4 separate regions of the Homo sapiens genome follow, and all the other regions are reported to be linked to region 1. The links are microRNA targets in miRTarBase. Many come from high-throughput screens and were not tested one by one. Region 1 holds a microRNA gene; each other region holds the end of a gene's coding sequence.
The links. The annotated mature microRNA hsa-miR-3666 reads CAGUGCAAGUGUAGAUGCCGA and lies in region 1 at 3,601-3,621, shown strand. An mRNA with a match to its seed (bases 2 to 7 or 8) in the 3' UTR can be bound and repressed. Matches are read on the target gene's strand: a 7mer-m8 pairs with bases 2 to 8, a 7mer-A1 pairs with bases 2 to 7 and ends in A, and an 8mer does both.

Region 1 (7,120 bases):
ATGTATGTGTTTTTCAAGTTCTCAGTAATCCACTGGAGGCTGTTCTATAAATGATCATTGAAGGGCTGCAAGCTAGCCTATAATTACAGGAAAGAAAGTGGCAGCTCTGGCATTTCATAACTATGTGTCCTCGAAAAGTGCTTTGTGAGTTTGTCACCAATGATAATTTAGATAGAGGCTCATTACTGAACATCACAACACTTTAAAAACCTTTCGCCTTCATACAGGAGAATAAAGGACTATTTTAATGGCAAGGTTCTTTTGTGTTCCACTGAAAAATTCAATCAAGACAAAACCTCATTGACTATTATTGTAGTCTACAGTCTCTATTCTAATAAAAGCTGCATAGATAAATTGAATAGGGCTCTAAGACCCAAGTATATAAAGCAAACATTTTGTACTTTTTTTAGTTCTTTAAATATAAGATCATGATTATCACTAAGCAGTAAACAAGTGTAGAAAATCATTTTAAAAAGTGATTTCACAAGAAAATGTTATAGTGACTATGCCTTTTATTGCAGACCTGTATGTTCTACTTATCTTGCTTCCTGCATTTACACCCTAATCTCAGTGTATAACTGAAGCATTTTTGAAAATATGCAACATTTTTTCTTATATGGAATAAATATGTTTGTGTTCCCCAAGAGTTCATGGTGAAAAAAAAAAAAATCTTACGGAAACACAGCAATATGAAGCCTTAAGAATACAACACACAACTGTATTATGCTGGTAGAAAATTGTCTTACTGTTCATTTAAATTTTGGGGGAAAAAACCCTGGGAAACAATTTTTAAATGTAGTCTTGTTATTTAGGAATTGGTGACACTTTCTGTTAACTAACCTCTGGCTTACTCTCACATTCCATACCTCCTTCCCAGAGAGCATGAGTGAATGTTAATCCTCCTCACAGGTTCACAGCAGAACAAACCTGAGCTGAGCTTAGAGAGCAGACAGGTATAGTGGAAGTGCCTCCCCTGCACTCCAGCCACACTCCTTCAGCTTGACCTTATCCACCTTGCTATTTTAGTCCACAGTTTCTCTTCAACCAAGACTGACATTGTGACAAGATACATGGAGGTTTTGTTGTTATGATCAATAAGGAAGTATTAAAACAAACTGGTTTAATTTATCAAGGTATAGGCAAAACAAAGGTTTCTGATTGTTGAACCTAGGTATATAAACAAATAAACCTTTTGTTTATAATAAAATTAGTTTTTATCAGCAACACGACTTTAATTACTCTTCATATGTTTTACATGTATGTGTCTTATATTTTTTCTGCCTCACTGTGATCTTCAAGAAATAAAAGTAAATAATTTGAATGGATACAAAAATATATTTGTTGAATTCAGTATACCCAGGGCTATTATAAACTTTTTAGACTATTATATCATTCTAAATGATACTTGAGCCCACTTGGGTAAATATATAAATTCTTATTTAATTTTGTGAATTTCTTTTCAATATGCCATTTCACTTATATGCAATGATGAGAACATCTCTGAAATTGTTGCCTTACTTTGCCCATTGGTGAAATAGATACACTAAAGGATATTGAATTACTTGAAGATTACTTTCTTTAATTTTGGGAAGCATCAAAGACATTATGTATTACAAATTACAGAGTATATATTATTAAATGTTTTCATGTTCATTGGAGATGCTGCTTTACTAAATTACTTTTGGTGTATTAACATACCACTCATTAAAGAGATCTCTTTAAACATCGTATAGAAATAATAATGGTAGACTAATGCATATTCAAGGTTAGAGTGAGATCATTTGGAATGATTTATTTTTCACCATTTTAAAAATAAGATTAGGACAAATGTCTCCTAGTTAGAACACTGGACATGAAATGTCAATCTTGTTATTCTAATGATCAAAATCTTCAATGAAGTTCTTTATTACTAACAGCAAATCATCATTCTTCATAAATATTGATTTTCCACGGGAGATAATTTGCCATCTTTACCTAATTCATACCACATCCCAATGAAATAAAACATTGCTCACTAAAATACATCATAGAAACAACAAACTGTTCTAACAATGAAATAGAAAATTGCCTTTGTTCTCTTCAGAATTGCTTTTGGTTCATAGATTTGTAAGCTGTTCTTTTTAAAAAAATGGCATAAATAATATGACTTCTACTATAACTCTGTAAATGGTCTGGGGAAATATTTTTTGTAATAACAGGTAAGCTTAGAGACAGTGACATTTTCTGCCATTTGAAGAGTCTCTTTACATTACATAAATAATTTTCACACAACACGTAAGCAGCTTTAACTTTTATCTGTATGGTTTCAAGGCTTTCTGTTTTCCCAGTGCACAGAAACATCTGACTTCAGTGTAGTGCTTTTTAAGTGTAGCCTATGCCACTAAGATCGACATCACTTTACATTCTGTTTTGTGTCTTCTGTTTGTTTAGGCACCTTAACAATGAACACGCATTGGATGACCGAAGCACTGCTCAGTGTCGAGTGCAAATGCAGGTGGTGCAACAGTTAGAAATACAGGTTTGTTAAATGCTCACTTAATGGACTCTTCTTAGATTTCTGGTGTGTTACATTGAGTACTGAGCAGATTCTGGGTCTTTCAGCCTGCATTTTACTGTCTTAGCCATTCAATACTAATGGAGATACATGATATTTTAGATTGTTTTAAACAGTGGCAATTATTGATAACCCAGGAAGGATTGCTGTAGTTTAATGTACTTATCACTTATATTTTTATAACTTTTAGACCACATCATATGAATTTGAATATCCCAAAGTAGTCAGATCTAAGTTTTTCCCAATGCAGGTTAGACCAAACTCCCAATTAGATATGATTTTATTACAGAGAGAGTTTTTACATGAGCTAACCTTGATTTTTTTCCATGAGATTTTATATTGTGGCAAATGACCAGTCTTTACAATATCATGCCTGTAATATAACTAACACCCTGAAAGATAACCTTTTCTTTTCTTTTTCTAGTGTAATTTTAATTAAAGAACTTGCAAAAAAATCTTTATACTTTTCTTTAGCTAGATTAAAGGCAGATAATTTATATCACAGATGATAATACACACATGTTGTATCAAATGCGACTGTTTTAAGTTAAAAAAAATTCTATTAATGTTGAAACAGAATTTGGCCAGAAGTAAATAGAATCCATAGAACTAATCAGAAAGCAATTATGTCACCCAAAGTCTGACTCTTGTTATGTTTTACTAAGCCTTTAAGGCTTTCTCTAACATTTCATCTTAAAGATGATCTTTTCTCAATGAAACTAATACTTTGTTTCATTTAAAGATACGATTTTTCTTCATATTTTATTACATCTTGTTTCAAATTCGTGTCATTGCTTTTTTCAGAGAGCTTACTAAAAATATTTTGTTTTGACTTGTAAAATAATCAAGAACACAAAAAGCACCATCACTGTTAAAGTTTAAAAAGCTTTTTATAAACCTGTTTACCATTTATAAAAGGTAGACTAAAACATAAGAGTTCAGCTGATGATACAGTCTTCGGTGTGACCAATTACGCCTATTTTTTTTTTTTCCTTCTGCTGTGTCTGACTGATGGAAAAGTAAGGTCCGTCAGTTGTAATGAGACCCAGTGCAAGTGTAGATGCCGACTCCGTGGCAGAGTTCAGCGTTTCACACTGCCTGGTCTCTGTCACTCTATTGAATTAGATTGATGATGGCAGATTGCAGGGGGCACTAACTGGACCTCAGTGGGAATGCATGAAGTGTGTAGACAATCCTGGCAGGCACTTTGCTTTGAGAACCCTTCACCCCTTCACAGCTGTTGGCACTAGTCCATTGCTAACAGTGTCCACAGGACTTTAAAGAGACACCATGGGCCTTCTAATTTATGGTTTCAGTAACTTGTTACTGTCGAGGCAACTGTGACCTCAATTCTCTTATTGACAAAAAGATGAAGTGTTATTTGTTTTCTCTGACCTTTTAACATAAGAAAAGCTATAAAAGTTTTTCCCCCTCCATAGCTAAAGTTGCATTTCCTCCCAGATAAGTTCCTCCTGACGCAGACTTTTACATGCAGGAATCATTATTCTGAGGCAAGCTCAATGATAAGATGTATCACTGCAATAAAATAGCTGTATCAGTCATTTCTAAAACGCTTCTGATCTCACTCTTTCTTAACAGCTTTCTAAAGAACGCGAACGTCTTCAAGCAATGATGACCCACTTGCACATGCGACCCTCAGAGCCCAAACCATCTCCCAAACCTGTAAGTGCATATTGCTTTATAAACAGTAAATAGCTCTACCAATGTAACAGACTAAGAAAATGAACAATTTAGTGACAGTTAGAAAACAATGAGTGTGATGAAAAATACGGCAATAAAATGAAAGTAAAATGTAATCGCTTGTCAAATTGTATGTTTCTTTTAAAGTAATGCTATCTTTTACAAAATCTATCCAATCTACACCATGGGTGACACTAAACAAAGTACACCTATCAGTGCACAAATCACTGCCTTGGGGCTGAAGCCAGAGAGAATTTCTTTCTGTGATAGGTTTACAGATATTAAAAGGAAACCCTCTTTGAGCAACCTGAAAAGTAGTAACGTACAAATCACAAATAGAAATGTATGTGGTGTGCTGAAGAAGGCAGATCAATCATAAGATACATATAAATAGATTTTTATCAAATATTTTGTCATAAAGGTCATGGTATTTTTATAGCCAATTTTGTCCTATTTCTTTGGTTATTTCAGTTAAGATGTATTTCACATATTGATATGTTTTATTGTACATTATACATAATGTTAATTTAGAGAGCTTATCACAAAAAGAAGTGGGTGATTATAGAAAATTAAGACTAGTTTCCCTCAAAAATATATGAGATTTAAGCTCAACCTAATAATGTAGTCAGATACACAGACTGTTGAAAAGAATATACTTTATCTCATTCAGCTGATGTTTGCACAGAAACTTAGAGTAATCAACTGGGTAACTCTAGTTTAATGAAAGTTTGTGGGATACTTTTTAATAAGGCCCCTGTATAGCCTGATGATTAATGATTGCCAGTCTTGCCTCTCCCTCTATTTCTTTAGGTAAAAAACGAACATTTGGCTTTGTAGTTGGGGAGGAGACAGAAGACGACTATATTGTCTAATTTTCTCGTAATGTCTCGATATTTCTTATCAATTAATATCATTCAAAATTTACTTTTTTGGTAGAGATTATATTTAAACTCTGCTAAGCTATTTCTGCTTTTCCTTTGTACTGTATTTAAAGGTAGAGTACTGTAAAAACATTTTTATAGGAAGAAAAAAGACATGTATCTTTTTGAATCTGACATACTACTTTTTAAACTCTAAAATGTCTGAGTTTTTAATTAAAAAATAAACTTTTGAGGATATTTTTGATCATGTATTTATGACTATCTTTTCAATAAGATTTTTTCCCTCATTGCTTCTATAGTATAATGTAGATAATCACAAGACAGAATAATTGTCTCATAAATCCATCAGGAATCTGCAGCTTGTTCTTTTCCAATTAATTATTCAATCAGTAAATTTTTTAAAACTCCAGCAGCATGGTTACATCTACACTAATAAAGAATTTTCAGCCTATAATCCAAAACAGAACCTGAATGAATAATGTAATTGAAGTATTACATTACATAAACCACACATGAAAGAATTGCTAATTGCGTTTGATGGTGGGCAATTAATACAGAATCTTAGATGAGCGATTTAAAATGAAACCACAGTTTAAAGTTCCCTTTGGAACTAGCGATATCTGAAGTGAGGAACTGCACTATTGGCCTCAGATCGGTTTGAAAGAAGAGTGGTCAATACTCACAACCCTCAAAAAAACCCTAAAATTTATACACTGTACAAAAGAAGCTTCAAAATTGATATGATAGTAGAGATTTATGGTCTCATGTGCAGTGGCTCAGTTGAGACGGCCCACACATTTGATAAATATTAATAGCATGAATTTATTACCAAGGAGAAATGAGCTCTGTTGGTTCATCACTGCACCCTTAACAGCTATCAGTACATGAACACAAGGTGCAACCGCACTGTCTATTATATGACCCCATTTACTCTCTGAATGGTACTTCATTAAATGGTACCTTTTGGCCATGCTATGGATGGATGAAAATCAAAGTTATCAAGGCTGCGAGTCCTGAATAATGAGTTTCACCCAACCTTGACTATATTCAGATGAGTCGAGGTGGCTAAGTGCTCATCCTAGCTTTTACATGCTTCCCTTTAGTTAATAATAAATTCTATTTTATCAGTTTGTGATTGTACGCCTACAAACATGGTATGCTTATTATTACAGGATAGCAGAATAAGTTACCGTAACATTGTAAACATGAGTGGTTTGCATTGAAAAAGATGTATTTCTCCTGTTTTGATAACTTTTAATGTGTTGGTAAAATGTACAGAGTCCTGTCACATATTCATCAGGATAGATATTTCATTGATTTGCAATTTGGTATTTTCTGGGTTCTGAATGTGCCATTTTGTTCTGGTTTGCAATTCTAAAAGTGAATATGTAACCATCCAGCTGAGTTTTTTTTTTTTATGTATGGGGAAATACTTTTCTTTTCTTTTCATATTTTTAACATACAAGTATGTAATGCTGATATTTTCTAAATATAACATTGTTATGTATATGTTCTGATGTTGATATTTTAGAATATTTGCAAAGTCACATACAGATGCATATGGATGTTTCTGCGTTTCTCAAACTATGCAGAGGTGCTCTTGTACATCCCAGAGAAGCTTACACCAGTGGCTTTGTAAATGTATTAAATGCAGCATTTAGGAGCATTATCTCAGCTTTCATTTATGTACGTAACAAAGAATTCCCTACCCAGTCTGCTGGCTTAGAGTATGAACAGAATAACAGTTTGTGGTTTATTGGGAACAGATGCACTTGGGGATGCCTTCAGGGTGCCAGTCGTTATTATTAGACTGCTAATGTGCTTCTTCTGGCTGCTGCCCAAGAAAGAAGAACAATTAGCTGGCATATGTTAATTTTTGTTTCCCTAACAAATCTCTCTACTGACTAAATGTGTAAAACAAATCCACAAAGAAAGATCAATCAATGCTGTACACATCATTTTCTCCCCATTAAAAAAAGGTTTA
Region 2 (7,099 bases), not on the chromosome of region 1:
TCCCACACAGGATCTTACAGGTCACCTGGTCCAACGCTGCCCAAACAGGAAGCCCCTCTAATCCCTAGCAGCAGCCACCTGGCCCCAGCTGAATCCCTGGAATGGGATTAAGGAGGCCATGGAAGTTTTCCAGTGTGCGGGCAGCACCTGGATTGGGACATCACTTTGGACCATAGCAGATTTCCTGGAAGAATCTCAGGTTAAATGGGGTCTGGAATCTGGGCCTCACAGGCTCAGGAACCAGACAGTGTGTGTCTATCCAGAGATGATGGGTCTCTCAGTTGTGGACTGAAGAAGAATCACACAGAGAAGATCACTTGAGAGATTGTGGGAGAATCTGCTTGCAGAAGCTAGAATATTCTTGACTTTCATCCAGAAAACCATCTAGTCCTTTTTTGTGTCAAGGCAACAGGGAGCCAATTCAGAAGGCTGCTTGTTGAATACAAAATGAAGAATGGGAGAATGGGAGTCTCAAGGTCAAAATCATGACATGGTGAGGTCTGCCGAGCCAGAGCCCTTGTGTGGATGGGGCCCCTGCTGGACGCAATGAAGGACTCCCTTCGCTCTGGTTTCCTGTGGACCCTTCTAGGTGAGTTGTGCCCCCAGATGGTACTGTCTGTGCCTTGGCAGGGAGCCTCCTCCTTGAATGGGGTCAAACAATCTTGAGAGTTCTAGAGGAGCCCAAAGTGGCCGCTGACAGACAACTGCTACATATTTAAACAGTTTCAAACTTATCAAGAGATGCTCTCAGATATCAGGCAGAAATCTTAAGTGTGTAGTCCTTAAGAATGACCCTGCCATTGTGTTTGGTGGCTGCATTTAGCTGCACTAAAGCAAAAATCAGCTGTTCTAAGCTTAGTCAGATCCCAAAGTACTATTATACACCTAGAATACTCAATCCAGCACACGCAAACACGCAAAGCTTCCACACAAAGGTCTCCAAAAAGGACATTTCCCAGCACACTCAGCCTCCTTGCATTCACTCAAACGGTGGTCAGATACTGATAAAAACAACTTAAAACTTTGTTTTTAAACTAGAATTTATTGGTATACAAAACTCCATTTCATAGATAAAGTGGCACATCTTTGCAGCTTCTATTGCACCAAGTATCGAAGATTAAAAACACAAAAAAAGAAACATTTGGTTTTGAAAACACTGCAAATAGCCAAGTACAGTACTTTGGTAAATAAAAAATAAAATGGTTCAGATGAACACAATCCGTGGAAAGAAACAATCTAGGGGGAAGGAACTATGGACATCAGACAATGGTCACAATTCTCACCATCGAGCTCCATAGATAAGGCAAGACTTGCTAAGTCTATGGATCACGACCCCATGGAGGTCTTAAGTATCTCCAGACTGAAGCTAGAACAAGTATAGTGCAATTAGAAAGAGAGAAGGCCCCTCCTCCACGGATACATCCACCCCTCTGTAAAGGAGACTGACGCATGCCAACACTTCTACATGGGAAAGGGGAGCCCCCGGGTGTGACGTCTGACTCCTGGCCCTTTTCTTCTTTCCTCTGAGCTTAGTGCTGGTGGAGGCTCTGGAAGAGGCACTGGGGAGGCCAAGGGCCCTTCCTACTATGAAAAATGAACTGTAAGAGTGGGAAAATGTGTGAAGCCTCTTACCAGTACTGCTCGAGGGACCTGCCAGGGATCAAACCGCCAGCTGAGGTCTGTGGCTGAGCTCACATGATTGTCATGGATGGCTGGCAGCCTGCCGCAGGCTGACACGCCAAGGATGAGAGCCAGGCCACAGAGAGTCTGTCCGGCAATCGCCGCCAGCCGCAAGGACTGGCAGTGAGCAGCAGCAGCTCTGGATCACGGCTATGACCTGCTTAGAATAAATTCCCTATGCAAAAGTTCGTAGTTTTACAGAAATAGATTCTTTACACTGGTACCAGCCCCTTCTCAAGTAATTCTGCAAGGATGCTAAACATTTTCATGGAACCACAAAACAGTCCTAACGAGGACAGTAAAGAGAGGGACTCTACAAAGCAGCTGCTTCAAAGACATAGGTCAGAGCCTGAGGTTTTAAAGGAATTTCACCTTGGGAGAGAACTTCCAGGCCAACCACAAGGCACCGCTCTTTCCGGAGGTCCCCATCAGCGGTGTGCGGTAAGCTCTGCATCCTAAGTGCACGTGGTGACTGGTGCTCCGTGTTCTCTCCACGTTACAAATATGACTGTCCCCTTTCTAATATGCGATGGCAGACGTCGTAATTTATGCCATCTAGATCTTCAAATCAATGATGTCATTAAAAAAATACAATTTACTGGCCGGGCAGGGTTGCTCACACCCGTAATCCTAGCACTTTGGGAGGCTGAGGCGGGCAGATCACAAGGTCAGGAGTTTGAGACCAGCCTGGCTAACATGGTGAAACCCCGTCTCTACTAAAAATACAAAAATTAGCCAAGCATGGTGGCACACACCTGTAATCCCAGCTACTCAGGAGGCTGAGGCAGGAGAATCGCTTGAACCCGGGAGGTGGAGGTTGCAGTGAGCCGAGATTGCCCCACCACACTCCAGCCTGGGCAACAAAGCAAGACTCTGTCTCAAAAAAAAAAAAAAAAAAATTTACTTTAGAGCCAGGAAAACATAACTTATAAAAAGTCCATTATTAAATCACCTCAGAACAACTGTCAAAGGCCCCGGAGTTTTAGCAACACTTGTTCTGAAAGCTGTGAATAATGAGAATGGCAAAACAGAAAAACGGCATCAGACTGAGTCTAAAGATTTAACATGGCTAGACAGAGCCTTGAGGTAAGAAAGTGAAGAGCTACGCATCTACCCAAAACGGGAGTCGAAGAGGGCCACTGACGCAACACATTAAAATCAGGAAGCTCCATTCTCTTCCCCCCGCAGAGATCCTTTTGGTCAGGGTAACTTTTAGTCACCTCTGACTAGGAATCCAAGTTTCCTTCAACTGACTGAATATTTCACAGAGGTAAACTGATAGCATTCTATGCTGACCCAGTAAAACCCAGGCAGAGTCTACAGAGTTTCTCAGAATTAGAGAAATTGCACATTGACTACAGGGACTCACTACTAGTACAGTTCAGCGCTGAAGTCCACCTGATGCTACCTGTGTAATATGTGAGCAACTCCCCGACTGAAGGTGGCCCTCCTCCCACCCCACCCCCGACAATCACATCATTTCACACTGAAGCAGCTCCCTGGGGGAAGCAGGGCAGGCATAATAAATTACCCATGGAGAGGCTCCCTCCCAGCCAGCTCCAGCTGCTCCACAAGGGAGATCCCACTTCCCAAGCCCTCAGAATCAAACTGGCATTGGAAGTGTTTTCAGAGCTTAATAAAGAAACTACAGACAACTTCGACTAACATTTAAAATTCTTTCTGCCACAATTTCTCAACCATACTTTGCTCCTGAAAGTGTATGTTCATTATTATTGAAAAACTAAATACACACATACATTCTAACTTTCTAATATCTCCTAGTGGCAACTACATTATCTAGAAGTTATGGTTCTATGCTGCTTTAATACATCTACCTCTCTAGTTCAAAGCTGTTGCCACTAAAATGGTATTTATTTTGACCTCTAAAAAAAAATATTTTCAAAATCCGTAAAACCTTTATATACCGTTTATAAGAGCAGTAAGCAGCTATGCACCACTGCTCCATCCCCTTTCTCCTGACCACACTACAAGCTACCAAGACAATCTCATGTAACATAAATCTCTGCCAGCCAAGATGTAACACAGAGGTTAAGACACATTCAGTTCCTAATAAAGAGTTCACAGGAGCACCTGTACTAGAGTAACAGCTGCTGACAACAGTCATCCCAGGACTAGACATACTGGGCCTCCACTCGGGCTGCCAGTGAAGGAATTTTCAAGTGCCCACTGAGGCAACTAAGCATGTTGATTCCAACCTTCTCATGTACCCAGTGAGACTGAGGCAGTGAAGTCTAAATTGAAACCATTAGCTAGAAGGTATCACTGAAGTTGGATGCATGTACCCGATTCCTAATAATTAACACACTAAACAGACCAACTGTAACTGAAAAGCTGTGAAACCAGTAGTAAAATTACTAAAGCCGTTTGATTAGTTTTTTAAACCACCATTATTATACTCCAGAAATGCTGAAGCCTATTACCAGAATTAGGTAATTTAAAAAATAAATGTTCCCAATATTCTTTAATAACTTTTTAGCAGCTTCTAAAACTTCTAAAACCCAATAGGGCCCAAGGCCACCTTCATTAACCAAGTAAATAAAGCAATTCTACTACTTCTGACAATAAGTCTCTCTTAAGCTGACTGCTAATCTGAATTTCTGGCATACAATCTTATCTTTCTGAGAGGATCTGGCCTCTGCACTCAAGCAGTACAAAACAGACAGGAAAACATCTTCATTCAGAAACACTCAGCCAGTCAGGAATCTGCCCAGAGTTGAAAACCAAGACAACCATAGATCCTAACGCACTCGATCCCACTTCCTTAGAGTAAGGCAACAGAGATCTTTCATTCGTTTGGAATGAGTAGAGTAACACAGCCTCAAGCTCAGGACTCTGCGACGTGCACAGAAAAAAAATGCTGTGTACTTTTTTTAATCTGCTAAATTTTACAATGTACTGTACCCAGGAAGAAACCTAAACCACAATGTCCTAGGAGCAATTCCAAGAGACTACTGATGCTCCAACTACAAAAAGCCACCAAAGTCAAAAACAAAACCAAAAGATACCAGTGAAACTGAAGAAAGCCAAAGGCCTGGTGATAAAGACAATCTGGCGACTCCAGGGCCTACCAAACATTTTAGTTTTCAATTTGCCTCCGAATTTTTATAATTCTGAAATGCGAGGGGTGGGGAAGATAACTAATAATTTACCTTTCAACTCAGCATCAATTATTTGCCCAAGTATTAGGTCCCAAAAGACAAAGATGATCCAAGATGGGCTGCCTCATACGTTATAGTTCTTAAGTTCACATCCACCTAACTCAGTTTTAGGAAAGACGTCTCTCCACTGCTCAAGTCTGTCTATTTCAGAACTGAAGAGTGATTCGAAGGCCTCAACCAAAGTATGTTCTCTTCTCTGCTGGTCCAACCTAAGTCAACCAACCCTGCTGGTCCAACAACTTCCAGCAGATGCTGGAGTTTTCCCAACTTTGAAATGCCAAACAGGGCTTAAATAAAAAGAAATAAATGTAGCATTTTATAAGATTTAATTTCCACAATACTAAGTTTAGCGACCTATAAGGTCAAGTTACCACGTATCTCTCTGAAGGCATCTAAGTCTACAACAGAAGGGAAGAAAATCGTTATTTAAAATGCGAACATGAAAAACCTTATTCTTCCAGGCTTCTCCTATAAAAACATAATTCTTTAGACTCCTCTTAGGCAAAACCCCAGGAGTTCGTCTCCTGTTACAACTATAGACCCTGCTCTACACACTATCAGAATTCCAGAACTGTATCACAAGCAGTAACATGCCATCTCCCCACTGTCAGGAAACAAATACCAAAAACCCAACACCACTATCAACTTCCCAACAAGGCCAGGCCTAATTAACAGTCAGCTGCATTTATCATATGGCTTGAGTGCAAATGAACTAACAGCACCTGCATCCCATCTGAAATAACATCAGAATCAGGAAGGAGAGAAATGCGGTTAATTTCCATCCTGACTGCAGGCCACAACCCTCACGTAACTTTGGGAAAACAATTCCTGAATTATTTTCTGAGTAACTTGGATTAGAAGTAAATCAAAGCATATTCCTGAGTTGGAGATCATTTATAAGCTACCCTATATATCTGTTTGAGAATGAAAGAGAAACTAAGGAAACTTGTCATTCTGAATTTCTAACAATTATTCTAAACTACTCATGAACAATTACAGCAAAACTCACCCCAAATGTTAAGGAAAGATCCTAGGGTCACTGAAGTCTGATTTTCAGGGCAAATAAAGCCACCACTTAAAAGGTTTTTCCTGACCTAACTATCTGCCCCTAAAACTCAGTATTTTAATTTTGTATTACAGAATATGAATGGCCTCACTGCATTTTCATAAAACACCAACATATCACTAATAAAACTTCGAACAAAAAAAGAGGCAGCTTGAACGAAACTAACTCAGTGTGTGAGCTCATGTGTGGGCTTCGTTGGTTGTGTTGCGTTTTATAAAAGGACGGCCTCACTGGAAAGTCTAGCACACAGCAATCCTTTTCCAGCCGCTTCTTACAACTCCCAAGAGGCCAAAGAGTCAGATGTTGAGAGCGGCGAAGGTCTTCACCAAGGTGACCTGCGTGTTCGCCTCTGCTTCGCTTCTGTTATTGTCCCTGTGGCTACCTCTGCTCTCCAGGGCTTTGTGGCGGTGCCTCTCCTCCTGCCGCTTCTTCTTCTCCATCCACTGCTGTTCTCGCCTCTGTTTGTTTGTGACCTGAGAGAGAAGGCCATGGTGGTGAGTAGGAAGCACGGGGGACTCAAGCTGCCACCTGCTAGAAGGGAGATGGTGGCAAAGGGCACAGATTGCTTTTCAGCAGGAACAGGGAAAACCAATCTAAGACGCCAAAGATGATTTACTGTCCACTGCTGCTCAAATTTGCATTTAAATTTATATTTCCTTGCTGAACTAGCAAACAAAATCAATTCCATTCTTCTCTTAAAGAAACCAGCCCTCATCCAGCAAGAGTTGGTAACAAACAAACGTGTCAGAGAACATTTTTCCCCACATAATTTAATGCCCCAGGTAATTCTGACAAAATCCTCAGAAGCTTATTGCATCTCTGCCTCTGCTGTGGCTTTTTACACTGTGGCATTTTGAGCTCAGAACTTCTTGGTGAAAATCTTTAAAATGATTCCAAATTCAGTAAAATGGAAGATGTCACATACTACTTGTGGGAGTGAAGGGCAGGGAGGGAGATGTACCTTTCTGGGAAGCACGTGACAATTTACCAAAAGCCTTTAAAAGATTCATGTATCCATGACCTTTAACCTGTTCATTCCTCTTCTGGGACTTTATTCAAGAAAATAATGCAAAAACCAAAGATTTATACACAAAGGTGTTCATTGCAGATCATGGCATTTATAAAAAACATGGATAAACATGGGAAGAGCCCACATGTACAGTAATGTTAGGTG
Region 3 (7,101 bases), not on the chromosome of region 1:
GAGACCTCGGTCTAGTAGGGGCCCTGTGTGATCAGATGGGGCTGGGAGAATTTTCCGGAGGAGGAAATCCTTGAGTGGGGCCTTGGAGCATGAGTGGAGATAAGTGGAGTATGAAAGGGATCTCGGATCAGAGAAAGGATGTGGGACAAAGGCTTAAGGCAGGAGTACACACGGTCTCTGTAGGGGACAGCCAGTCTGGGTGTGGGGGTGGGGAGAAGGGGATATGAGGTGGTTTCCTTGGGAGGGGCCATGAATCAGGTAAGAAGCCAGACTGCTGAGGCAGAGTAGGGGGGAAGGAGGCACAAGGGCCTTGCACTCCAGCAAAGATGGTAGAGATGGGGAAGCATTCGGGCTGGACAGGAGAGACCCAGGTTCCAGGCGCAGTGTGAAGCCTCAGCAGACCCCAGTTTCAGAGGTTTGAGGAAGGAAAATCAACAGACACCCCGGGTATGAAGTAGGGGCCAGGTTGTGGGCTCTGCCTCTGGGGACAGGGCAGATCCCTTCCTGCTTTATTTGTGAGCCACCTCAACAGGACCCAGGCCATCTGCAGGTACTAGTGGCCTAGCTGGGTAGTCTTTCCTGAGGTCTCACCTCAGGCCTTTGTGCTGCTGCTGTTGCTTCTGGCCTTGAGCCTGAGAGAGAGGTGAGAGGAAGGATGCTTTCTCTAACTTGGGCTCCTCCAATCTCTGGTTGCAAAGCTGGGGTTGGGGGAGAGAGGACCACCCAACCTGCCCTGTACAAGCATCAGTAAGACTCCAAGTTTCCCAGGGCCCGAACACTTGGGGGTTGTCTCTCAACACCCGGCTGGAAGACAAGTAGGTAACCAGGTTCAGCCCCACCTGCCAAGAACACTGTGTTTTGGGCCTGGCAGAGCTGCTACTCCCCCTCTCCCTCCTAAGAATGCCCAGAGAATCACTTGCCAAGGCTACTCCTGGAGCTCAGCTGTGGGATCAGGGTTTGGGCTGAGGATCAGGTGCCTGTGTGCACACATGTGCACATGTGTGTGCCAATGGGTGGTAGGGATTGAGCCCGTTGTGAGAACATCCAGCCAGGTTGGAAGTGTGTACAGGTATCTGAGGGTGTGCACGTGAGCAAGAGGGTGTGCAAGATGTGGGTGACTGTTGGGACCACAGAGCTGAGGCCTGTGGTCAGCTCAGGTCAGAACTGGGAGGTCTGTTTCCCTTGGGAGGACCTGTCTGCTCTGAGGGGGACCCGGACAAGTGCACATATGCATGTGTGTGTCTACACACACACACACACACACACACACACACACACACACACATATGCTTGCCTCCCTCTCCAAGGCAGACTTGCCTGGGAAGTACCCCTCCTCAGCAGGAGCTCGAAGACCCCTGCCCAGTGCTGTTTTCAGTAGAGGGAGTGGAGCTGAGATGGGGAGACCGTACTGAGCGGTCCAGGAGTAGGGAAACAGAGCTGCTTTGCAGCTTCTGTTCCAGAAGATGGGGGTTGGGGGGCGGGGTTGAGGGCCAGGGGTGGGAGCAGGAGCAGAACAGAAAGCCTCCCTGCTCACTGGCCTTTCCCCTTCCCTCACTGGCTGCCCATGGAGCCAGGATCAGCATGGGAACAATCAAGGAGGCAGGGGCTTATCAGTACTATGGACCCCTACACTGGCTCTGCCTGGTGGTTCTTCTCTTCGCATACCAAAGACAGAAATTAAGCCTCCAAGAGTGGTAACTGACCTCGGTCACACTTGGTGGGTGTGGGAAAGGATTCAAATGTAGGTCTGTTCTCTTCTTCATCTATCATGGTCCCTGTCCTGGAGGCAAGTCGTCTGGGGCTCAGAAAACACCCCTGTTGCCACTGATTGGAATTCCAAGGGTCTGGGTGAAGTGGGGATGGGCCTCCAGCTTGCCTCCAGCCTGAAAAAATAGTAGAGGGTGTTGAGGCTGGGAAGGGAGGTGGGGCTCATGTTGTACAGGGCCTGAGCCAGGGAGCTTGGGCTTCATTCTGAGTACTGTGGCAGCCCTGGGAAGGTTTGTAGCACAGAGGGATATTGTCATTTTTGGAAAGATCCCTTTGGCTGCTTAGGTAGAGAAGGGCTTCAAGAGGGCAGGAAGGGACAGGACTACAGAAGGGGCTGCTTCAGAGTCCAGATTAAGGAAGGAGAGGCCTGGGCAGTCAGAAAGGAAGAGAAGCCGGATGTGGTGGCTTGTATCTTCAATCCCAGCACTTTGAGAGGCCAAGGTGGGAGGATCACTTGAGCCCAGGAGTTCAAAACCAGCTTGGGCAACATAGTGAGACTCCCATCTCTCCAAAAAAATTTAAAAACCAGCCAGGTAGACTGGGCGCAGTGGCTCACGCCTGTAATCCCAGAACTTTGGGAGGCCGAGGCAGGCAGATCACGAGGTCAAGAGTTAGAGACCAGCCTGACCAACATGGTGAAACCCCGTCTCTACTAAAAATACAAAACTTAGCCAGGCCTGTGGTGATGCGCACCTGTAGTCTCAGCTACTCAGGAGGCTGAGGCAGGAGAATCGCTTGAACCCGGGAGGCAGAGGTTGCACTGAGCTGAGATCACGCCACTGCACTCCAGCCTGGGCAACAGAGTGAGACTCCGTCTCAAACAAAAAAAAAAAAAAAGAAAAAACCAGCCAGGCGTGGTGACACAGGCCTGTAGTCCCAGCTACTCAGGAGACCGAGGAGGAAGGAATGCTTGGGCCCAGGAGGGGAGGTTGCAGTGAGCCAAGATCATGCCACTGCACTCCAGCCTGGGCAACAGAGCGAGACCCTGTCTCAAAAAAAAAAAAAAAAAAAAGAGAAAGGGAGGCTCCTACTAATACTGTGCCTGTGCCTGTGAGCTGTGGCCTGAAATCAAGAAAGCAGAACCACACTGGGGCCTGGGACTGTCCCAGACCTGACCTGTGTGAATTTGGGAAGCAACTTAGCATTACTAGGCCTTAGTTTCCTCTTCTGTAAGCCACATTAGTGGGGTAGCCACGGGGAGTCAGGCAGATGACAGCTGTCACAGAGTTACTGCCCAGGGCTCAGCTAGAGGGACACAGCCTGCCAGGGATGGGCCTAGGGAAGGAGTTAGGGTTGTTGACTGCTGGTGGCTTGGTTTGCAGGGGCCTGGATCCCATCCAGACCCTGGTGATTCTGGGGTTGTCTCAGGCTAGGCTGGGCCACAGTGGAAGTTCACTGACTGCCCTGGCCTGGCCAGGCTGTGACTCTGGTTTTGGCAAGGAGACGGCCAAGAAACTGGACTCCATGGGCTTCACGGTGCTGGCCACCGTATTGGAGTTGAACAGCCCCGGTGCCATCGAGCTGCGTACCTGCTGCTCCCCTCGCCTAAGGCTGCTGCAGATGGACCTGACCAAACCAGGAGACATTAGCCGCGTGCTAGAGTTCACCAAGGCCCACACCACCAGCACCGGTCAGTGGCAAGTGTCCACCAGGCAAGGGCGTGGCAGGGGAGTGGGAAGGACACGGGGACTGGAAGTTTGCTGCTGGGCTGACCTAAGGCTTCCCTCCTCTGCTCTGTGACCCCAGGCCTGTGGGGCCTCGTCAACAACGCAGGCCACAATGAAGTAGTTGCTGATGCGGAGCTGTCTCCAGTGGCCACTTTCCGTAGCTGCATGGAGGTGAATTTCTTTGGCGCGCTCGAGCTGACCAAGGGCCTCCTGCCCCTGCTGCGCAGCTCAAGGGGCCGCATCGTGACTGTGGGGAGCCCAGCGGGTGAGTGCCCCCCCCCACTGGAGCAAAAAGGAGCCCCCTGGGGTGGGGGAGGGCTTAGGGAGCCCCTTGCCAAAGCTGAGCTGCCCCACTCCCAATCCATCCGCAGGGGACATGCCATATCCGTGCTTGGGGGCCTATGGAACCTCCAAAGCGGCCGTGGCGCTACTCATGGACACATTCAGCTGTGAACTCCTTCCCTGGGGGGTCAAGGTCAGCATCATCCAGCCTGGCTGCTTCAAGACAGGTGGGAATCAGGGCTGGGGGTGGGGTGGGGGTGGGGAATGGGGCTGGGAATGGTCTTATGGGGGCAGGTCAGGTTTGATGAATGGTCATGGTTTTGGTTGGGGGTGTAGTTTTGGCTGCAGACCTGGCGCGGGTTAAACAGTCCTAATTGGCTTTGGCTCCCCTAGCTGATCCCACTCTGACCTTGCCACTCCTTCCCCAGAGTCAGTGAGAAACGTGGGTCAGTGGGAAAAGCGCAAGCAATTGCTGCTGGCCAACCTGCCTCAAGAGCTGCTGCAGGCCTACGGCAAGGACTACATCGAGCACTTGCATGGGCAGTTCCTGCACTCGCTACGCCTGGCCATGTCCGACCTCACCCCAGTTGTAGATGCCATCACAGATGCGCTGCTGGCAGCTCGGCCCCGCCGCCGCTATTACCCCGGCCAGGGCCTGGGGCTCATGTACTTCATCCACTACTACCTGCCTGAAGGCCTGCGGCGCCGCTTCCTGCAGGCCTTCTTCATCAGTCACTGTCTGCCTCGAGCACTGCAGCCTGGCCAGCCTGGCACTACCCCACCACAGGACGCAGCCCAGGACCCAAACCTGAGCCCCGGCCCTTCCCCAGCAGTGGCTCGGTGAGCCATGTGCACCTATGGCCCAGCCACTGCAGCACAGGAGGCTCCGTGAGCCCTTGGTTCCTCCCCGAAAACCCCCAGCATTACGATCCCCCAAGTGTCCTGGACCCTGGCCTAAAGAATCCCACCCCCACTTCATGCCCACTGCCGATGCCCAATCCAGGCCCGGTGAGGCCAAGGTTTCCCAGTGAGCCTCTGCGCCTCTCCACTGTTTCATGAGCCCAAACACCCTCCTGGCACAACGCTCTACCCTGCAGCTTGGAGAACTCCGCTGGATGGGGAGTCTCATGCAAGACTTCACTGCAGCCTTTCACAGGACTCTGCAGATAGTGCCTCTGCAAACTAAGGAGTGACTAGGTGGGTTGGGGACCCCCTCAGGATTGTTTCTCGGCACCAGTGCCTCAGTGCTGCAATTGAGGGCTAAATCCCAAGTGTCTCTTGACTGGCTCAAGAATTAGGGCCCCAACTACACACCCCCAAGCCACAGGGAAGCATGTACTGTACTTCCCAATTGCCACATTTTAAATAAAGACAAATTTTTATTTCTTCTAAAATGCGGCAGGTGCTGTTTGGAGGGGGTCACTGACTGGCTGGCTGAGTGACACAGTGTGGCCGTGTGACAGGGTGGCAACTCCTGGGGCTCAGCGTGGAGGCTGGGATTCCCCTGGTAGACTCTGGTTCACACCTCCCCCTCCTCCACTGACCTGGGGCAAATCATTTCAGACCATGGGTTTCCTCATAGTGAAATGGGGGTAATGACACTGATCCCAATTGCTTGAAGCAACTGGGGAGGCCAGGGGGGCCTCCAGGGCCAACATCTAGCTCCCCAGGCCTGTATGCATCTGAGCCTCCAGCAGAAGAAGGGGCTATCTCCCTGGGACTCCCCAACCCTGAAGAATCTCGGCTGCTGACTGAGGGAGGGAGGTGGAGGCTTAGGCAGGGTTGCTTAGCAAGGTGGGGTCACGAGGGAAGTTAGGGGTCATGGAGAGGTACCAGGGCCTAAACGAGACAGCAGACAGTTGGCCTTAGAGAGGGCAGTTTTATTGTCTCAGAGGGGCAGGGCTGAGGGAGGGAGCTGAGGAGCAACATCCCCCCAGGCCCCAAGGACACACACACTCTGTCCTTCCCATGGGCCATGGCTCTGGGAGCGACCCACAGAAGGGAGAGGAGGCTCAAACTGCCCCCAGGCCCCAGGGTTCTCAGGTCAGGGAGTTAGGGAGGAACATGAAAGTGACATGCTTCTTAGATACATCAGCGGCTGTAACCACAGGGCTGAGGGGGCCTCCTTGCTCTGGAGGGGGTCTTCGTCCATCCTTGGTGGGGGGGGGTGCCCAGCCCCTTTTCAGGCCTAAGAACAGTCTCTAAGAGGGTCAGGAGAACTGGGCAGCCGCTAGGACAGCGTACTACACCCCGGACAGGCAGGTGAGCCACAGGCTTGTCACAGACCACATACACACACACGCACACACACGCGCACACACACACACACACACACAAAGAGTGCAATTGAGAGCCTTGGGCCAGGACGCTAGAAGATAGGGATGTAGTTGTCGATTTTGGCGCGGTGGCGCTGGGCGATACATTCAGCGATCCACACGATGTTGCGACACTCCTGCTCCTTGAGCTTCACGAAGGCATAGAAGACACCAAAGTGGAACTGGTTCAGGAAGGCCAACTTGTTCAGCTTTACCTGTGGACACGGGCAGATGTGGTGTCCAGGTGGCCATGGCCACAGAGTCAGGTCTAAACCACCAGGTTGGCCTCCCTCTGACAAGCAGACCCTGCAGACTCACCTCGTGCTCAAAGAATCGGTCCTCCAGCGTCTTGTCTCCAGGGTTGCTACCTGCACCCTCGAAGAGCAGCTTGTACTCCTGGCCAGGGGGGTGGGGGGAAGCACAAGCATGAGGGTTCTGGGTGGGGGTGCTTGGTGACAACACATCCAACCGCTGTCCTGCCAGCCGGGGCACTCACCGGGTAGTAATCGGCCACGTTCTTGACCTGTTCATAGTCGTCAGCCCGAGCCAGCTGCGCCAGGCCCTCAGGGTAGAGCCGCCCACAGTGTGGAAAGAGCTTGGCACGGTCCTCTTTGGACAGCTCTGTGCCGAAAGAATTGATGGTGATGATGAAGGCGCGGCGGTCTGCTTCAAACTGTGGAGCCAGTGCACAGGTAAGAAGAGAGGGAGGAAGAAGGAGGCAGTAGCCAGTCAGTTGGCAGAGCCTCCCCAGGCCAGGGCTAGCGGGCACCAGCAGGCAGGAGGGCGGGCAGGCACTCACCTCCAGGATGGGGCACATGGCATCAGCCGTAGTCCCGCCCAGTAGGGTGCAGAACTTGTAGAAGGACTCCAGGTAGGCCTGTAGAGAGTATGGAGCTTGCTCAGCACAGGCAAGGAAGCTCTGGAGGGCTTGCTAGGCACAAGCCCTCACAGCTCCCTCCTCCCCTCCCTAGCCCCTTTCAAGGTGGGTACAAGCACACCCATGGATGGGCCGGGGCAGCCCTTACAGCAAAGCCAATGAAACACTTCTGTGAATCAGCCAAGTGGCAGCT
Region 4 (7,120 bases), not on the chromosome of region 1:
CAAGTTAGCTCTTTGGTACCTTACATATCTCACTTCATTTCCCAAGGAAACACCACTGTAAAACATAATTATAAATTGCTGTACAAAATACCTTCCCTGGACCTTGTTTGAAGGTCTTTCCTTTTATATTGTATCCCTTTTCTTTTTTGGAGGTCAGTAGGAATGGTTGAGGCAGTCTTGTGTCTCTGATGAATCAATCGCTAAAACCTACCTGAAGAAACTAAGAAGTTCCCATTATTCTCTTTTTTTAGACAGTCTTGTTCTGTCGCCTGGACTAGAGTGCAGTTGTGCATTCTTGGCTCACTGCAACCTCCACCTCCTGGGTTTAAGTGATTCTCATGCCTCAGGCTCCCAAGTAGCTGGGATTGAAGGCATGTGCCACCACGCCCAGCTAATTTTTGTATTTTTTGTAGAGACAAGGTTTCACCATGATGGCCAGGCTGGTCTCAAATTCCCAGCCTCAAGTGATCCACCACCTCAGCTTCCCAAAGTGCTGGGATTACAGGCATGATCCACCACGCCTGGTCCCATTGTTCTTTACATCTGATGGGCTGCTTTTGGGTTGTTTTATGCAGTGCGAGTGTGTGTGTAAATATTAACATCTATCTTGTTATTCCTTTTTATCCTTATCCAAAAACCTCAGCTATAACATGTTCGGACACTTCAAGTTCTGCATTACTTTATTCGGAGGATATGTTTTATTTAAGGATCCACTGTCCATTAATCAGGCCCTTGGCATTTTATGTACATTATTTGGCATTCTCGCCTATACCCACTTTAAGCTCAGTGAACAGGAAGGAAGTAGGAGTAAACTGGCACAACGTCCTTAATTGGGTTTTTGTGGAGAAAAGAATGTTGTCCCAAGAAGATAAAAAATATTGTTAAGTGTGCAAGTTATTAAAAAAAAAAAATTGGGCCAGGCACGGTGGCTCACGCCTGTAATCCCAGCACTTTGGGAGGCCAAGGCCAGCGGATCACTTGAGGTCAGGAGTTCGAGACCAGCCTGACCAACATGGAGAAACCCTGTCTCAACTAATAATACAAAATTAGCCAGGCGTGGTGGCGCATGCCTGTAATCCCAGCTACTCGGGAGGCTGAGGCAGGAGAATCACTTGAACCCGGGAGGCGGCGGTTGCAGTGAGCCGAGATCGTACCATTGCACTCCAGCCTGGGCAACAAGAGCGAAACTCCATTTCAAAAAAAAAAAATTGGTGACAGACTCAATGATGGAATGATTTGTCGGAATTAACACAAAGCAGATTTTATTCATATAATGACTTTTTTTTAAGAGTCTCTTTTTTAAAAAAACTTAATTCTCTAAAACCGAAATGGTTCATGCTTCTTTTTAAAAATGATTGTATAAAATGTATGGAATGGTTAGCCTGGTGTGGTGGTGCACACCTGTAATCCCAGCTACTTGGGAGACTGAGACATGAGAATCGCTTGAGCCTGGGAGGCGGAGGTTGCAATGAGCCAAGATCGTACCACTGCACTCCAGCCTGGGCGACAGAGCAAGACACTGTCTCTCTCTCTCTCTCCATATATATATGTGTGTGTGTGTATATATATATATATGTGTGTGTGTGTGTGTGTATACATATATACACATATATACACACACACATACATATACATGTGTATATATATACCATCCCATATATATGTGGGATATATATATATATATATATGGATATGGTTATATATATGGGATGGTTTGGTTGGTCCCAGCAAAGTATATGAAAATTAAAGTTCTGTGATAATGACAAAGGAATTGCTGTTACTGTACTGCAAATATGCTGTGGGTTCTCGGTGTTCAAACTCTTCTAAGGAAGGACACACAGTAGCTCTCTGCTTGCTGATAGATGGTTTCCCAGTGTGAGATTTGTTATTTTGATCAGAGTATTCAAATCAGAATTTAAATCTAGTGTTTCTATTTTAGTTTAGCTTCCTGATTTATATAAATGAAATCTCATTTATAAAGTATAATAAAGATGACTGTAAGACAAAATCCAATTCTAAAAGTATGATTTTTTTCTAGTAGAAAATTGATGTAAGAAATCATACATTATTCATACATTTATAGGTCATCTCTTTGAGTTTTCAGTGAACTATAGAAACTATATGGAGTTAAAAAACAAAACGGCAGCCAATCTCAGTGGCTCACACCTGTAATCCCAGCACTTTGGAAGGTTGAGGCAGGCAGATCACCTGAGGTTGGGAGTTCAAGACCAGTCTGACCAACATGGAGGAATCCCGTCTCTACTAAAAATACAAAATTAGCCAGGCATGGTGGCACATGCCTGTAATCCCAGCTGCTCGGGAGGCTGAGGCAGGAGAATCGCTTGAACCCAGGAGGCAGAGGTTGTGGTGAGCCGAGATCATGCCATTGCTCTCCAGCCTGGGCAACAAGAGTGAAACTCCATCTCAAAAAAAAAAAAAAAAAATAGCCCTATGTTTAAATGGCTCAAAGAAAAGACTATAAATGGAATTGAACATGTTTGTTAGCTGTTTGAGCATTTTATATTGGTAAATTTTTTATTTTCTTATTTTTTGTCTTACAGTCGACCAGGCTGGAATGCAGTGGCACAATCATGGCTCACTGCAGCCTCAGCCTCCTGGGCTCAAGCAATCCTCCTGCCTCAACCTCCCCAGTAGCTGGGACTACAGGTGCACACCAACATACCTGGCTGATTTTTATATTTTTTGTAGAGACAGAGTTTTGCCATGTTGCTCAGGCTGATCTCAAACTCTTGAGCTCAAGCCATCTGTCTGCCTCAGCCTCTCGAAGTGCTGGGATTACAGGCCTGAGCCACCACACCTGGCCAGTAATTTCTTAATCCTACCTCCCTGCTTCTATTGCCTAGCCCGTACATTTGAGGCTTCCATGGAGCTTTCTGTGGTACTGAAACACTTGGAGTGAACTGCAAACTTGGAGTGAACTACATCCAACCTTTCTAAGGTGGCTGGGGAAAATTCTTGTACAGCAAGTTGGGACAAAATAGCCATATAGAAACAGCCATATAAGATCCCAATATAGAAAAATTGGGATATTAGAGGAAATACATGATTTCCATTTATGGAGTGCTACATGTTTGCAAAATGTATTTCTGCTTTTCATCTTCTTGACATCTGAATATTAAAAGCAGTTGTTGATAATTTCATATAATAAATTGAGACATATCATTACTCTTGTAATAATTCATTTTCTAAATGTTATTTATCAACTTTCATGGAGAAAACAACTCTTAGGAGAACAAAGACCAGCCCGGGCAACATGGCAAAACCCTGTCTGCAAAAAATACAAAAATTAGCCGGGCCTAGTGGCACGTGCCTGTAGCTCCATCTACTCAGGAGGCTGAGGTGGGAGGATTGCTTGAGCCCAGAAGATGCAGGTTGCAGTGAGCCGAGATCATGCCACTGCACTTCAGCCTGGGCGACAGACTGGACTCTGTCTCGGGAAAAAAAAAAAAAAAAAAAGGGAAGAGCGACAAAATATACCTTTTGATAAGACAGTAAATTTTATGTTTTGTGTTTTTTAACACAATAAAAATATATATACACACATATAATATACCTTTGGGGTTTTTAGGATTTTTTTTTCCTGGACTCTGAAATGAGAAGCCTCGCTGAAAATCTGTTTTGGAGAATTCCAGTTTGTCAGTCAGTCTCTTGTGTAATTAGTACGTGTGGCTTCCTTCTTTGTTTTAAATATTCTTTGGTTCTTCTCATTTTACAAAGATATATATTTTTTGTGCTAAGGACAGAGCAATTAGTTTTTACCAGATAAGCCTCGGGTATTATGTTTGTCTAAGAAACATTCTCTGTGTATGTTTAAATTGTAATTATTTCCCAAAAGCTGAGGAAAATGTTTCAGCACAGTGAGGATTTGACGTCTGCACTGAGAACAGCTGAGTTTATTTGTGCCATTTAGAAATTCGTAACTGTAGGCTGGGCGCAGTGGCTTACGCCTATAATCCCAGCACTTTGAGAGGCCAAGGCGGGTGGATCACCTGAGGTCAGGAGTTTGAGACCAGCCTGGCCAACATGGCGAAACACTGTCTCTACTAAAAATACAAAAATTAGCTGGGCATGGTGGCGGGCGCCTGTAATTCCAGCTACTCGGGAGGCTGAGACAGGAGAATCACTTGAACCAGGGAGTCGGAGGTTGCAGTGAGCCGAGACTGCGCCATTGCACACCAGCCTGGGTGACGAGAGTGAAACTCTGTCTCAAAAAAAGAAAAAAAAAAAGAAATTTTTAACCGTAAATAGAACTTGGGGAGGGTGTTATATAATATATGTGTCAGTAGGAAGGCAGTAAGAAGATTGGAGTAAGACAGGATGGGGTTACATGTATATAAATGAATAAAATAAGTACTGCTAAAACTTGAGTCTGATAAACTTTTTTGCCCCGAAGATAATCATCCCACTGAAAAGAAAACTCTGGGGAAAATATGCCAGATACTAGGACCAAGCACGGAGACAAACCAGATACAGTGCTTTCAAAGAAAACATGCTTGCTGTCCTTTGTTACCAGTGTAATTGTAATTATTGTTTATTCTGTGTTAAGTGACTGAATTTCAATTTTTACCTTTTAAAAATAAAGAGAACCTCTTTTTACTTCTGTATTGCATATGAGAGCTGATGGAAGAAGGATGGCATCTGTGTAACATATGCATGGTAACGCTGACGTGTTCAGCTGTTCATATTTGGCCTGTCCAAATAAGCAGAAATGAATGAAACAAAATTCCATCTCCTTTTAGAAATAACATAAAGGAGAAATCTATCTCTGTGAAATGAAGTAAGCATTCTTCTGTTTCACTTTTTAAAATACTTTTAAAATCTTGCTGTTTTCAACCTATTAATGACTTTTTGAAATTGTATTTCAAAGCAGAAACATTAGGTTGGGTATGGTGGCTCACGCCTGTAATCCCAGCACTTTGGGAAGCTGAGGTGGGCAGATCACCTGAGGTCAGGAGTTCAAGACCAGCCTGGCCAATATGGTGAAACCTTGTCTCTACTAAAAATACAAAAATTAGCCAGGTGTGGTGTTGCATGCCTGTAGTCCCAGCTACTTGGGAGGCTGAGGCAGGAGAATGGCTTGAACCCGGGAGGCGGAGGTTGCAGTGAGCCGAGATCACGCCACTGCACTCCAGCCTGGGCAACAGAGCAAGACTCCATCTCAATAATAATAATAATAATAACAAAGCAGCAACATTAATCAAGCACTCTGTATTCACTCCGTCAGTAAATACTGTCGGGTGAATGACTGCAGAATGGCCAAAGGTGAGAGTTTGATTAAAAGAAAGGAGACCTTGGCCGGGCACGGTGGCTCACGCCTGTAATCCCAACACTTTGGGAGGCTGAGGTGGGTGGATCACCTGAGGTCAGGAGTTCGAGACCAGCCTGGCCAACATGGTGAAACCCCATCTCTACTAAAAATACAAAAAAATTAGCTGGGCGTGGTGGTGGATGCCTGTAATCCCAGCTACTTGGGAGGCTGAGGCTGGAGAATCCCTTGAACTTGGGAGGCGGAGGTTTCAGTGAGCCAAGATCATGCCATTGCACTGCAGCCTGGGCAACAAGAGCAAAACTGTCTCAAATAAATAAATAATAAAAGAAAGGAGACCGGATTTATTAGATGTGGTCCGTTTTGTCTTTCTGTTCCCAAACTTAAACTGGATTATACCTGCTAATATCAGGAATATAATGATAATTGCATTCATTCAACAAAAATTTATTGAGCATATACTGTGTGCCAGGTACTGTCCTAGGCATTATGGATATAAAACAGTTTTTATGTAGAGACAGTCCTATATTTCCTGTGATCTTAAGGAACATTTGTCTAGTATTAGAGATAGGACTAATTAAACAAAAACAAGACAAGAATAATTAAACAGCAAACTCAATGAATGCTAAAGGGAACATCGTTCTGTGAGCACATAACAAAAGAATCTGGCCCAGGCTTGGCACTTGTGGAGGGAGTCCATGAGGAAAGTTTGAGCTGCAGTCATAGATACATAGAAGTTAGCTAGCTAGGCAGAGGGAGGGTATTGCATTCTGGAAAGAGGGAATAGCACATACAAATGCCTAGTGGTTGGAGGAATTGTGATGCTTTTAAAGAACTGTAAAAAGGATGGAGTCTGGAGACTAAATTTGGGAGTGGGGAGACATGGTGTGTCCTGCACCTGGAAATGTAGATAGACCTCAGGCCATACAATACCTGGAGGCTATGGTAAGCATCTTTAGTAAGAGCAAGGGGGAGTGTTGTGAGCACTGTCACAGTAAATTTCTTTTTTTGAAATTAGTGGAGGAGAACCAGAGAGATGCCAGGAGACCAGTTAGTTGGGAGATGACTGTAGTTAGAGATGGTGGTAGCTTCAAAGGTAGTGGAATGAGATAAGTGGAAATAATTGAGTAGCTGGAGTCAACTGGACTGGAGATGGATTGGAAATGGAGGGCATGAGAAGGGGTGAAGTTAAGGATCACACTTCAGCTGGGCACAGTGGCTCATGCCTGTAATCCCAGCACTTTGGGAGGCTGAGGTGGGTGGATTGCTTGAGTCCAGGAGTTCGAGACCAGCCTGGGCAAACATGATGAAACCCCATCTCTACAAAGAATACAAAATTAGCTGGGCATGGTGGTGTGGGCCTGTGGTCCCAGCTACTCAGGAGGCTGAGGCGGGAGGATCTCCTGAGCCCAGGAGTTTGAGGCTTCAGTGCGCCATGATCACGCCACTGCACTCTAGCCTGGGTGACAGAGTGAGTCCCTGTCTCAACAACAACAAAAAATCACACATGTCTGATTTGCGCAGCTTGATAGAGAATGGTGCCATTCTCTGAACTAGGAAACACAAGAAGAGGACTGAGGAGAGGGATGAGGCAGAGGAATATTATGGGCCTTCTTGATACTGAGATATCCAATTAAAGATGTTGGCCAGGCATGGTGGCTCAGGCTTGTAATCCCAGCACTTTGGGAAGCTGAGGCAGTCAGATCACTTCAGATCAGGAGTTTGAGACCAGCCTGACCAACATGGTGAAACCCCGTCTCTACTAAAAGTACAAAAATTAGCTGTGTGCGGTGGTGCATGCCTATAATCCCAGCTACTTAGGAGGCTGAGGCA

Region 2: miRTarBase lists OTUD3 as a target of hsa-miR-3666. Seed matches in the 3' UTR shown: 7mer-m8 at 5,560-5,566 and 8mer at 1,379-1,386.
Region 3: miRTarBase lists ATP6V0D1 as a target of hsa-miR-3666. Seed matches in the 3' UTR shown: 7mer-m8 at 6,056-6,062.
Region 4: miRTarBase lists SLC35E3 as a target of hsa-miR-3666. Seed matches in the 3' UTR shown: 7mer-m8 at 1,157-1,163 and 7mer-m8 at 5,560-5,566.

What each region holds. Positions count from the first base shown.
Region 1 is chr7:114,649,773-114,656,892 of GRCh38, forward strand. It overlaps MIR3666 (microRNA 3666), which reads left to right and starts at 3,573; the gene lies at 3,573-3,683. It overlaps FOXP2 (forkhead box P2), which reads left to right. Exons shown (of 17, transcript NM_014491.4): 9 at 2,431-2,518; 10 at 4,154-4,237. RefSeq lists an enhancer at 5,282-6,546.
Region 2 is chr1:19,906,869-19,913,967 of GRCh38, reverse strand. OTUD3 (OTU deubiquitinase 3) reads right to left here. Exons shown (of 8, transcript NM_015207.2): 8 at 1,023-6,398. The coding sequence ends at 6,222. Among named protein-coding and RNA genes, the nearest start is that of PLA2G2E, 13 kb to the left of the region's middle.
Region 3 is chr16:67,432,444-67,439,544 of GRCh38, forward strand. It overlaps ATP6V0D1 (ATPase H+ transporting V0 subunit d1), which reads right to left. Exons shown (of 8, transcript NM_004691.5): 5 at 6,831-6,908; 6 at 6,528-6,704; 7 at 6,350-6,427; 8 at 5,576-6,246. The coding sequence ends at 6,085. HSD11B2 (hydroxysteroid 11-beta dehydrogenase 2) reads left to right here. Exons shown (of 5, transcript NM_000196.4): 2 at 3,185-3,397; 3 at 3,514-3,699; 4 at 3,806-3,943; 5 at 4,145-5,110. The coding sequence ends at 4,560. Among named protein-coding and RNA genes, the nearest start is that of HSD11B2, 4.9 kb to the left of the region's middle. RefSeq lists an enhancer at 3,043-3,544.
Region 4 is chr12:68,764,061-68,771,180 of GRCh38, forward strand. It overlaps SLC35E3 (solute carrier family 35 member E3), which reads left to right. Exons shown (of 5, transcript NM_018656.5): 5 at 644-7,120. The coding sequence ends at 830. Among named protein-coding and RNA genes, the nearest start is that of SLC35E3, 21 kb to the left of the region's middle.